4 separate regions of the Homo sapiens genome follow, and all the other regions are linked to region 1. The links come from fine-mapping of genetic effects on gene expression. A gene starts in region 1. Each other region holds a variant in brackets. All regions are shown on one strand. Distances are between the middles of the regions.

Evidence for each region. PIP is the estimated chance that this variant, and not a neighbour inherited with it, causes the effect.
Region 2: its variant is fine-mapped to the expression of GALNT17 in testis (GTEx, PIP above 0.99).
Region 3: its variant is fine-mapped to the expression of GALNT17 in spleen (GTEx, PIP above 0.99).
Region 4: its variant is fine-mapped to the expression of GALNT17 in skeletal muscle (GTEx, PIP above 0.99).

What each region holds. Positions count from the first base shown.
Region 1 is chr7:71,131,121-71,133,804 of GRCh38, forward strand. It overlaps GALNT17 (polypeptide N-acetylgalactosaminyltransferase 17), which reads left to right and starts at 1,024. Exons shown (of 11, transcript NM_022479.3): 1 at 1,024-1,920. The coding sequence starts at 1,683.
Region 2 is chr7:71,218,999-71,221,682 of GRCh38, forward strand. All of the region lies in intron 1 of GALNT17 (polypeptide N-acetylgalactosaminyltransferase 17), which reads left to right. Among named protein-coding and RNA genes, the nearest start is that of MIR3914-2, 87 kb to the right of the region's middle. The variant T/C (reference allele first, on the strand shown) is at 1,450.
Region 3 is chr7:71,494,931-71,497,614 of GRCh38, forward strand. The region is part of intron 5 of GALNT17 (polypeptide N-acetylgalactosaminyltransferase 17); the gene reads left to right. Among named protein-coding and RNA genes, the nearest start is that of MIR3914-1, 190 kb to the left of the region's middle. The variant A/G (reference allele first, on the strand shown) is at 978.
Region 4 is chr7:71,243,160-71,245,843 of GRCh38, forward strand. The region is part of intron 1 of GALNT17 (polypeptide N-acetylgalactosaminyltransferase 17); the gene reads left to right. Among named protein-coding and RNA genes, the nearest start is that of MIR3914-2, 63 kb to the right of the region's middle. The variant G/A (reference allele first, on the strand shown) is at 1,184.

The sequences.
Region 1 (2,684 bases):
TGGAAAACCAGGAGCCAAATGAATATGCTTCTTATAATAAAATTTGAACAGAGCAGCGGGTGGGCCTAGAAGCAGTGACTGGGGAGGTTAGAATTCTTGCACGCAGAGAACCCCCCCAAGCCCGCTCACGCCCGGCCTGGCTCCGAAGGTCTCAGAATCCGAGCCTCCAGGCCAGATTTTCCCTCTAGCCATTCCTGGCCACGCAGCGCGGAGCCGCGAGCACACAGAAAAGGATGTCTTCATCGCCAACCGGGATGGAACGAACCCGCCCGCTCAGGGAGTACTGAGAACTAAAGGGTCCCTCCAGCGCCGGCCGCAGCCAGCATGCCTTGACTGCCTCCATCCCGCGCGGTCCCCACTCTCCAGAAGCCCCCGCCCTGCCCGGGTGCGCGCGCGCACGAGTCGGCGAACCGGGGAGCTGTGCGCTCGGCAGCCTGCGGGCGGCGGCGGCGGCCGCCGACAGCCTCTCGGGGACAGGGTGGCGAAGAGCGGCGGAGGAGGAGCTGGCGCCGCCGCCGCTCCCCTCGGGCCGCGCCCCGCCCTCCGCCGCCACCTGCGCGTCCCCTCCGGGCTCCTCAGCTCCGGGGCTGTGTGGCTCTCGGTGCCGCAGCGGCGGTGTCACCGCGTCCGCCAATTGGGAGACTCGGCGTTTTGGCTCCCGGGGGCGCGGGACGAGCCGCGCGGCCGGATCTGGCGAGCGGAGGGTGATTCGGCACGCGTACCTCCCCGCCGCGCTGCCCGCGACGTTTTGGGAGGGGGTAGAGAACTGCTGTGACTTTTGAGGTCCGACTCCTTCCGGCCAGCCTCGCGACGCGCCAGCTCCGAGACAGGCCGGTGTGCCCTGAAGGCCCCGAAGGCTCTCGGCGCGGTTTGGGGGCTTGGAACGTGTCCGGGAGCCGGCGGCGCTGTGAGCGCTGGTGAGTTTGCCGGCGGGGTGGGGTGGACTCCGCGCGGGGGGCGGAGAGGACGTAGCGCTCGGCCCGGCGCCCGCCCCCTAGTGCTGCCCCCACTTTGAGAGTAATTGAGACTTGAGCGTGACTGCGGAGCCTGGAGGATGCGGGCTCCCCGAGCGGGCTTCCCCTCTGCCCGGCGCGATGGAGCGGGTCGGTGAGCGGAACAAAGGCGCCTGCCCGGGGGAGCGGGTCTTCCGCTGAAGAGCGCGGGTGGCGCGCCGCGACGGCCGCCTGCGGGCCAAGGTGGGAGGCTGTGCGGCCCCAGGCGCGGCGCGCTCCGCCGTGGGCGGGCGGCGATCCCTGAGTCCGGCACCTGTGCGCCGCTCCCTCTGTGCCTCCCGGGCAGCCCCGCCTGCCGGCCTCGGAGTCCGCGGCGCCGGCGGCTAGAGGTCCAGAGGCGAACCACTTGCTGGTGCAGAAGAGAAACCCTCAAATCCCTGGCCTTTCGCGGAGACGCCTGGACGGGGCCGTGCGCCGTGGACTGAGCAGGCGTCTCGGGGAGCACTTCTGCAGAGCGAGGACTTCCATGTGAGCGATTCCGTTCTCCCCACCACCAATCCGACCTCCCAGCCGTCTCCGCCGCCCGAGCATCCTTGAGGTGGGACGAGCAGGGGCTTGGATCCCTGCCGGCCGTCTGGTGTGTGAGGCTTGCACGGCCCCTGGCTGCCCCGCGCCTCGCCGGAGCCCGAGGGGGCGCAGGTCCGGGGCGAGGGCCGGCCGGGCTGTTTGATGGCTTCACTGAGAAGAGTCAAAGTGCTGTTGGTGTTGAACTTGATCGCGGTAGCCGGCTTCGTGCTCTTCCTGGCCAAGTGCCGGCCCATCGCGGTGCGCAGCGGAGACGCCTTCCACGAGATCCGGCCGCGCGCCGAGGTGGCCAACCTCAGCGCGCACAGCGCCAGCCCCATCCAGGATGCGGTCCTGAAGCGCCTGTCGCTGCTGGAGGACATCGTGTACCGGCAGCTGAATGGTAAGGACGCACGCCGGCGCCTCCGGGGCTCGACGCGGGCGGGCCGGGCACAGGGTGAGCCCCAGGGTCCTTGCGCGCTGCGCCCTGTGCCTGGGAGCCGGCACACCCTGGCTCCCGCGCGCTCCTTCTTACCCTTCCTGCCCCGTTTCGGGCAGATGGCCGGGGCTGCTGGAAAGAACAACTTGCCTGATTCTTTTCTGTGCCCCACCTGCAAATTTGGTTTTATCCTGGAAACATGTCAGTACAGTTGGCTCCCGGTCCCCGCGTGCGGACTGGAAATCATTCCCTGGCGACTCCAGCCCGAGCGCAGAAACTAGTGGAGGGGCCACATGGGACTGGAGGCGCGCGGGCAGACGTGTAGGAGGAAATAGTCTTAGAGCCCAGCGTTTGGTGGGGTACCAGTAGGGAACCTGGGAGATTGGAGGGCTTGGATGTCTGCAGACAAAGTCAAGGCCCCAGGTCGCGGAGCTAATGCGCTTAGGTAGTATATGGGAGGAATATGTCATCTGTCTATGAGGCGAGCTGCTCAGCTAAGAATGAGGACTCCTCCCTTCCTGCCGCCTGTGTTTCTCCTTGGGGGCTGCGGAGGGGCGATTGTTAAAGCTCAGGGTGGGCCTGCGAAGTTTCCAGAATGTAGCACAGAGAGATGTGGCATCCCATTAGTGACAGTTGTCTGAATCTGTCCCATCTAAAATGTTGTGCTCAGTACTTCAGGAGAAGAGGGAGACTTTTTATGTGCTCTTGTCACACCTGGGCCAGGTCAT
Region 2 (2,684 bases), 88 kb after region 1:
TATCTTCTATGAAACTTGTCCCTGGTGCCAAAAAGGTTGGGGACTGCTGTAGTGACAATAACTCACATTTATTGACCAGGTACTACGTGACAGTCACCTCAGATGTCCCATCTCATATGATATTTGCAGCAACTCTATTAGGTAAACACTATTTTTGCTTTCATTTTACAAATTAGGTAAGTGAAGCATAGAGAGGTTAAATAACTTGAGGGTAATTCTTCCAAGGGGGTGGAGTCAGATTCACACCCAAACAATCTCTCCTGTCTACTGCATTGTCATTAAGAGTGATGAAGAGCCCAAGAACCAGCCTCATTCTAGCCTTTACCAATATGTGTATCTCTTTCTTATTTTTGGTTTACTTTCTCAGAATCTTTGGTTCTAGTAGATTTTTAAAATTAAACCTTTGTTTCCTCTGCCATCTCTGTTATCTCTTTCTGGAATGCTTCTGTGTCAGGTGCTAGATCTCAGTTGATCACTTGCTTTTTATTCTCTCACTTTTTTTGGTCTTTTAATTTAATTTTCTGAAAAATTTCTTCAATTTGATCTTCCAACTCTTCTGGAGTTTTAAATTTTTTGTTATATTTAATTTCCAAGAGCCTTTCTTATTTCCTGACTTTTCCTTTTTCTAAGTATCCTGTTCTTGTTTAATGAATATGGTATCTTTCCCTCGATTCTCTGAGGATGATAAGGGGGTTTCCCTTGTGTTCTGCAAGGGGTCTGTCTACTCCTTGCTCCAAGTGTATTTTACCTATTTGTAGGCTTTTATGTCTGTCCTCATATTTTTATTTTCCTCAAATGTCTGGTGATGCTTTGTTCTTTTGTATTTATGAGGAAGGCACTAATATGTTTGGTAGCTTTCTGTGCATTGTGGTGGTAAGAGGAAGCCAATGGTTCTCACTGGTAGGTGCTCTGGCAGGTGGATGGCTGTTTTGCTGGGTGTATGAAATGAATTATGTCCCTCCAAAATTCATTTGTTGAGTCCTGTGAACCTAAGTTCTCTGAAAAGTAATTTGGAGGAAAGAGACTTCATTCCAGTGAATAGTTTGCAAACAAGGGAGCCACGTCTTTGGTGTAAAACAAAGGTGAGTTCCAGAGAACAAATACGTTCAGGGTTTATAGCAAAACTCCCTGCTGAGGTTCCCAATTAAGTCCATTTATGCAAATGAAGGATTTGGACTTGCTTAGTTCTGGTTGGTCACACAGCCGAATCATGACTGGTTGATGTGGTTGAACCCTGACTGGATGGAGCGGGTGAGCTCTGATTGGTTGGTTTCCAAGCCCCAAACCAGAAGTCTCTGTTAGACCTTTCAAAAGGCCAGTTGGGAGGTGGGGGAATTCTTGCTTCAGTTTATCTTGGCACCAACAACAGAAACTGGTTTGGCTTGATTGTAGAAAGGGAGGTCCTGTGATATTTTCATAACATCTTTCTGAGAACACATTGTACGTGAC[T/C]TTCATAACATCTTTCTGAGAACACAGTGTATGCGACTGAACCTTCACCCAGCCATGACCACCTGGTTCTGCTCTAACTCACCCTAAATAGCCATGGGGTGTAGTTCATTTTATCTGTCAGCAGAGGCATACTTTTATGGTCCTAACCTCAAGTATCTCGGAATGTGTCTGTACTTGGAGATAGGGCTTTGAAAGAGAAAATGGGAGTTAAACGAGGTCACTGGGGTGGCCCTTAATCCAATATGCCTGGTGTCCTCGTAAGAAAAGGAGATTAGGACACAGACACACAGGGGGAAGACCATGTGAAGACACTTGGAAGATACAGCCATCTACAAGCCAAGGAGAGACGTCTCAGAATGAAACCAACCCTGCTGACAGCTTGGACTTTCAGCCTCCAGAACTGTGAAAAAATAAATTTCTGGTGTTCAATACACCCCCCTCTGTATTAGTTTGTAATGGCAAACTAATATATGAAGTGAAGCCCAAATACCCATATCTATAGATCTTTCCTCTAGGGCTATTCAGTTTTCCTAGAGAGGAAACTTCTAGTATTCTGCTGGGAGTCTAGGCCTGCTGTGTGCATGCTGGGCGCTGAGCCTCATGAAGGAGCTCAGGACTCTCCATCTGGGATCTAGACTTTCATGGAACTTTCCTTTGCTCCCATTACCCCTTGCCCTTTTCTGTGCCTGGGACCCCAGCCCTGGAGCCCCTAGTGGGAGGTACTCAGCTGTCTGGGTGGAATTGGCACAGGGGTGGACTATGGAGGACTAAGGGGAGAGCAGCATTCTATCCATGTTCCCACAAAAGACAGGATCTCCTTTTTCATGGCTGCATAGTATTTCATGGTGTATGTGTACCACATTTTCTTTATCCAATCTGTCATTGATGGGCATTTAGGTTGATTCCATGTAACCTTATACAGAATTACAGCCATGCTTTTTTTTTTTTTTTTTTTTTTTCCAACCCTACAACTTGTTCCTCACCTCCCGGAGCCTCCTCTCTGGGGTCCTGGGCATGAATTAACATCTCCCTCCGTAGCCAATTGGAATTCCACTCGGCTGACTTCTCCTTCATTTCTTCTTTCAAACTTCTGTTCGTGTTGCCTGTCTGCAGTCTCCTTTTGCTTTCTTGTCCTTGTAAATCCATAGATTCTCCCTGCTATGGACTGACCATAAGGGACTAATTGATAGTGCAGTGGTCAGGCTGATGTCAGCATGCTTCTGCAGTGGAGGAAT
Region 3 (2,684 bases), 360 kb after region 1:
GGCAACTGCCCCCATGATTCAATTGTCTCCACCTGGTACAAATCAAGGTGAGATTTGGGGCCAGGTGCAGTGGCTCATGCCTGTAATCCCATCACTTTGGGAGACTGAGGCAGGTAGATCACCTGAGGTCAGGAATTTGAGACCAGCCTGGCTAACACATAGTGAAACCCTGTCTCTACTAAAAAAAATACAGAAACTAGCTGGGCATGGTGGTGCACACCTGTAGTCCCAGCTACTTGGGAAGCTGAGGCAGGAGAAATGCTTGAACCCAGGAGGCAGAGGCTGCAGTGAGCTGAGACTGTGCCACTGCACTCCAGCCTGGGTGACAGAGCAAGACACCATCTCAAAAAAAAAAGAAAAGAAAAGGTGAGGTTTGGGTGGGGACACAGCCAAGCCATATCAGAAGACAAGCAAAGACACTGTACTCCATATTCTGTGATAATAGCAATGACAACCATAGCAGTTTTCTTTTTTGAGCACTTAATGTGTGCCAGGCATTGTGCTGCTAACATCTGTCTATGGATTAGTAACATAATTAATCAAAATAACCTCGGTGGGGAGGCATTATTATTATCATTATTTTTATTTTACAAGTCAGGCAGAAAGAGGTTAAGATAGCATGCCCAGGACTAGTAGGCAACAGAGCTGAATTTAAGTGCAGGGCCGAGGTCTGATCCCCAGTGGCCAGGCCCCTAATGACTGATCTCCTGACCCGGCCTGGAATGGGAGCACTATACCTTGGCTCATTCCCAGTAACTGGAGGATGCTTGATGGTCACATGTAGAGGCTGATCATTCCTCTGCTTGAATTGGGCATCGTAATAATGCCTTTCCTACATATCATGGCCACTTTCCCTTCCTGTCTCCAATTGTATAGGGAATTGCAGGGTAGGGAAGAGAGGACTCCAGGAGTATCTGATTTTGGTCTAGAGACTGATAAAAATGGGAAGTCCAGGGATCAGCAGGTGCCACCAGGGC[A/G]GATGTAAATGATGTCCTTGAGAAGCAAAGAATATTGAGAGTCCAGCCTGCCAAGGTTCGTGATGTCCGCTGCTGCCCACCCCTGCTGTTGCTGATATTGAATGGCAAGGCCAGAAGGCATGGGAACACCATCTGTGGGGGCTCCAGCAGGAAGAGAAAGCACTGGGAACCCATGTGCTCTTTTCGTCCTACAGATGGTCGAGACTTAGAGAGACAAGAACAGCCCCAATGTACTATTATTTTAGTTGCCCTGTCTTAGTTGCACAGGGAAGAGGACTTCAGCAGCTCCCAGGACTTGAATGTGAAGGACCCTGCAGTGGGGAGGCCGGGGGATCAAGGGAATCCCCAGGTGGCAGAAGGGGCCAGCAGCTGGGAGCCAGGCCCCAGAGTTTGTGCTGGCTCAAAGCATCAGTGGGCCAGTTGGAGACCGGGCTGTCTTACTCTGGTGGGGGTGGGGAGACATCTTTAGCATTTGAGGGGAGCATCTTTCTAGAGAAACAGCAGGGCATAGGACCTGTTTGGTGGACCTCACGTATTGGTGAGGTCACTAGCCACAGGTTGAACCAAAGGAAGTCAAAATGAGGACAGAGACCCCTCTCCGCACAGACATCGTCCAGTGACATAGAAATGATCTCCGCCTTCCTTTCCACCTGCCCTCCTTCCCCGAAGCCCAACCTGAAAGGAGTGGAGGAGAGAGACCATGAGGGAGGGTGAGGAGGAAGGCACTACAGAAACAGACAGCACCCTCTTTCCTGTCCTAAGCCCCCAGCTGCCCTGAGGAAGCATAAGAGCCATGAAAACAGAGTGAGTTCAGTGTTCTCAATTGAACCGGCCTAAATATCAATCACTGAAAATGACCTGGGCCGGATGGGGTGGGGTGGGGAGCGGGGGGCGGAGCACTTACACCTGTAATCCTAGCACTTTGGGCGGCCAAGGCAGGAGGATTGCTCGAGGCCAGGAGTCTGAGACCAGCCTGGGCAAAGTAGCGAGACCATGTCTATACAAAAATTAAAAAAAAAAAATAACCAAGTATGATGGCATGCACCTGTAGTCCCAGCTACTCAGGAGGCTGAGGCAGGAGGATCACTTGAGCCCAGGACTTTGAGGCTGCAGTGAGCTATGATCAAGCCACTGGTGACACAGTGAGACCCTGAATCTCTCTCTCTAAAAGAAGAAAATGATCTGAAAGTTAGGAAAATGATCTGAAAGTTAGGAAATTTGTCTAGGGAGGGAGATGTGGGTCCTCATCCTCTAACTGGGAGCCAGGACTGGATACATTTGACATTTGTATCTGCAATGAGCTGACCTTCTTCTGTGCACTAATCCACTAATGCTGCCATAACACACATTGTGCAAACTGTGTGCCATAGCATAGATTAAGTGGTTTAAACAAGAAACATTTATTTTTTCACAACTCTGGAGGCCAGAAATCCGAGATGAGCATGCAAGCAGCGTTGGTTCTTTCTGAGGCCTCTCTCCTTGGCTTGTCGAAGGCTGTCTTCTCTCTGGGGCCTCACAGTCTTTCCTCAGTCACATTCTGGGTGTGTCTCTGTCCATTTCCTCTTCTTTTAAGGACAGTGAGCACACCGAATTACGGCCCACTCTAATACCCTCATTTTAACTTAATTATCTTTTTAAAGACCCTTTCTCCAAATACAATCACATTCCAGGGTACTGGGGGTTAGGATGTCAACATATGAATGTGGT
Region 4 (2,684 bases), 110 kb after region 1:
AGGCAGTTTTCTCTGATCTTTCTTGTCCTCTCTTGCTGCCACCATGTGAGACGTGCTTCTTCCCCATCTGTCATGATTGTAAGTTTCCTGAGGCCTCCCCAGCCATGTGGAGCTGTGAGTCAATTAAATCTCTTTTCTCTATAAATTACCTCTTTTCTTTATAATTAAACCTCTTTTCTTTATAAATTACCCAGTCTCAGATATGTCTTTATGGCAGTGCGAAAATAGACTAATACATCTACTCTTCAATGATTTCAGTGTCTGCTCATCATTCTTGTCTAATATAATTCCGGCTTGCTTTATGATGTATAACATGTTGGGCGACCTTAATTCTACTAAAGGTTTCTTTTCCACAAGCAGAAATATGCAATCCTTCAACTTCCTTTGCTATTGTTTCTCTTTTCTTTTCTTGTCTTTTCTTTTCTTATTGAGATGGGGTCTTGCTAAGTTGCCCAGGCTGGACTCAAACTCCTGAGTTCAAGTGACCCCCCCATCTTGGCCTCCAGAGTAGCTGGGACTACAGGTGGGTGCTGCTGCATCCAGCCCTTTAACTTCCTTCGATCTTGTTCTTATTTTCCTTTTTGAGACCTCATAAAACAGCACATTTGGGGGCAGATAGTATGAGGAATGAGAAAAAACAACGGCCAAACTTGTGCAAAAATGAAAAATGTCTGTTCATAAAAGGACTGAAACAAGTCTATTGAATTTGGCCATGATGAGGTCATGATGTCGTTGGCAGGATCAAGAGTTTGTGGAAGCCAGATTGAAGTGGGGTGGGGTGTGAAATGAGAAAATGGGAAAATGGAACCGATGTGGATGACTATGCCAAGAAATTGGATTGAGAACTGGGGAAAGGGAGATGGAGGTGCAGGGTTAGAGGTGGCGTTTTCTGTGCCTGTGTTTAGGAAGGGAGTGACTAGAGCAGTTTAGCAGTTAAGAAGAGAGTGTGGATACAGAACTGCTCCAGCATCCGCCTGCTGCTACTGCATGCCCAGCTCTGCTCCGTCCAGATCCTGCCTGGCTGCACAGGCACCTCCTGAACTCTTCTAGTTCAATGCATCCTTCTTGGCTCCCACTTGCTCATTCTCTCTGGGTCTGCTGTCATCAGGGAGAATGCTTGCCAAGGTCATTAAGGGTTGATTGACACTAAGACATTTCAGTAATTCCTGGCATTTGGAGTTCT[G/A]ACACCTAACACTGTAGCGTTTGGTTTCACGGCTCTTTTATTTTCTGGGAGCATTCCAGTAAGAGAGAAGAGAGCCTGATGGTCAGGAGCTGAGTCTTTGGAGACACACAGATCTGAGTTTGAACCTCAACTCTGCCCTTTATTAGTTGTGTGACCTTGAGCAAGTCATCCCACTCCTTTATCCCCATCTGTAAATAAAATGAGATAATAAAAATGCCAACCCCTTAGGCTTATGGTGAGGAATGAAGAGAGATTACGTGACAACTTTGTGGAAATGAAGATTTTAGAATGAAGGCAGAGACTGGGATCCCTCCCATTCCCAATACTTGGATTAAAAGTTGCCCAGGTGCGGTGGCTCATGCTTGCAACACTGAGGTGGAAGGATCATTTAAGGCCAGGAACTGGAGACCAGCCTGGGCAACATAGTGAGACCTTATCTCTACAAAAAAATTTAAAAATTAACTGGGCATGGTGGTGCACACCTGTAGTTCTAGTTGCTTGGGAGGCCAAGACGGGAGGATCACTTGAGCCCAGGGGTTCAAGGCTGCATTGAGCTATCATGGCACCACTGCACTCCAGCCTGGGATACAGAGCGAGACCCTATCTCCAGAAAAAAAAAAATCAACCAAAAAAAACCTCTGTCTTTTGGGAAGGACCCCTAGGAAGAAATGGATGTTTCTCAGGAAAAGCAATTAATCGATGTCACCTAGCCCCACTCTAGGACCTTCCAAATGCCTCTTGGTATCTGTGTTCTTTTCTTGGCTCCTGGATAATAAGTGGTTGAAATAATTACGTTCTAAGTCTTTGGCACCCATCTGCCCTCGTCCTCCATCCACTCGCTTGGTGGAGCCTTTGTCATTGTCGACAATAATATGACTGAAGTCTGTGGGCTTTTCTAACCCCACACATGATCTATACCAAGTGGGAAGATTCTGTGGGGGCCGTGCTAAGAGAGTGTGCTAAAAAGAGAGACTATTTTAAAAAACCATCCTAATTTTGTGAGGCAGAATGTTGTTGCCATTTTTACTTTGTGCTGCCTGTCATCCACGGGTGTAAAGAAGGGCACAGGTATGGAGTAGTCTATGCTCATGGTGACATTCCAGGCACATTTGTTGTCCTTGGGATGTTTGGAAAAGGGGGAGGCAGGTGGAAAATTTGGCCATGTCTGGCCAAATCTAGGTGAAAAAATAATGCTTTGCTGTGAAAGAGTGGAGACTTGGGAGCAATCTCTGGGCGTATGTGCAACCTCTAGTTCTGGGTCTCTGAAGGTTAACGCCCTGTGGACACTGGGGACTGAACTGGTTTAGATTTTTCTGTCTCTTTAATGGGCAAAGGCTAGAGATAATGAAGGTGAGTTCTGTGTGTAAATTAGTATTTCAAATTAGCTTCTGGAGGTGGAAAATTCTTTTAAAGAGGAGCACAGAGATCACTCAGTAAAAACAGGAGAAATCAATAGGGGAAGACTGGTGTGAATTGGGAAAGGTCTGCAGAGAGCAAGAGA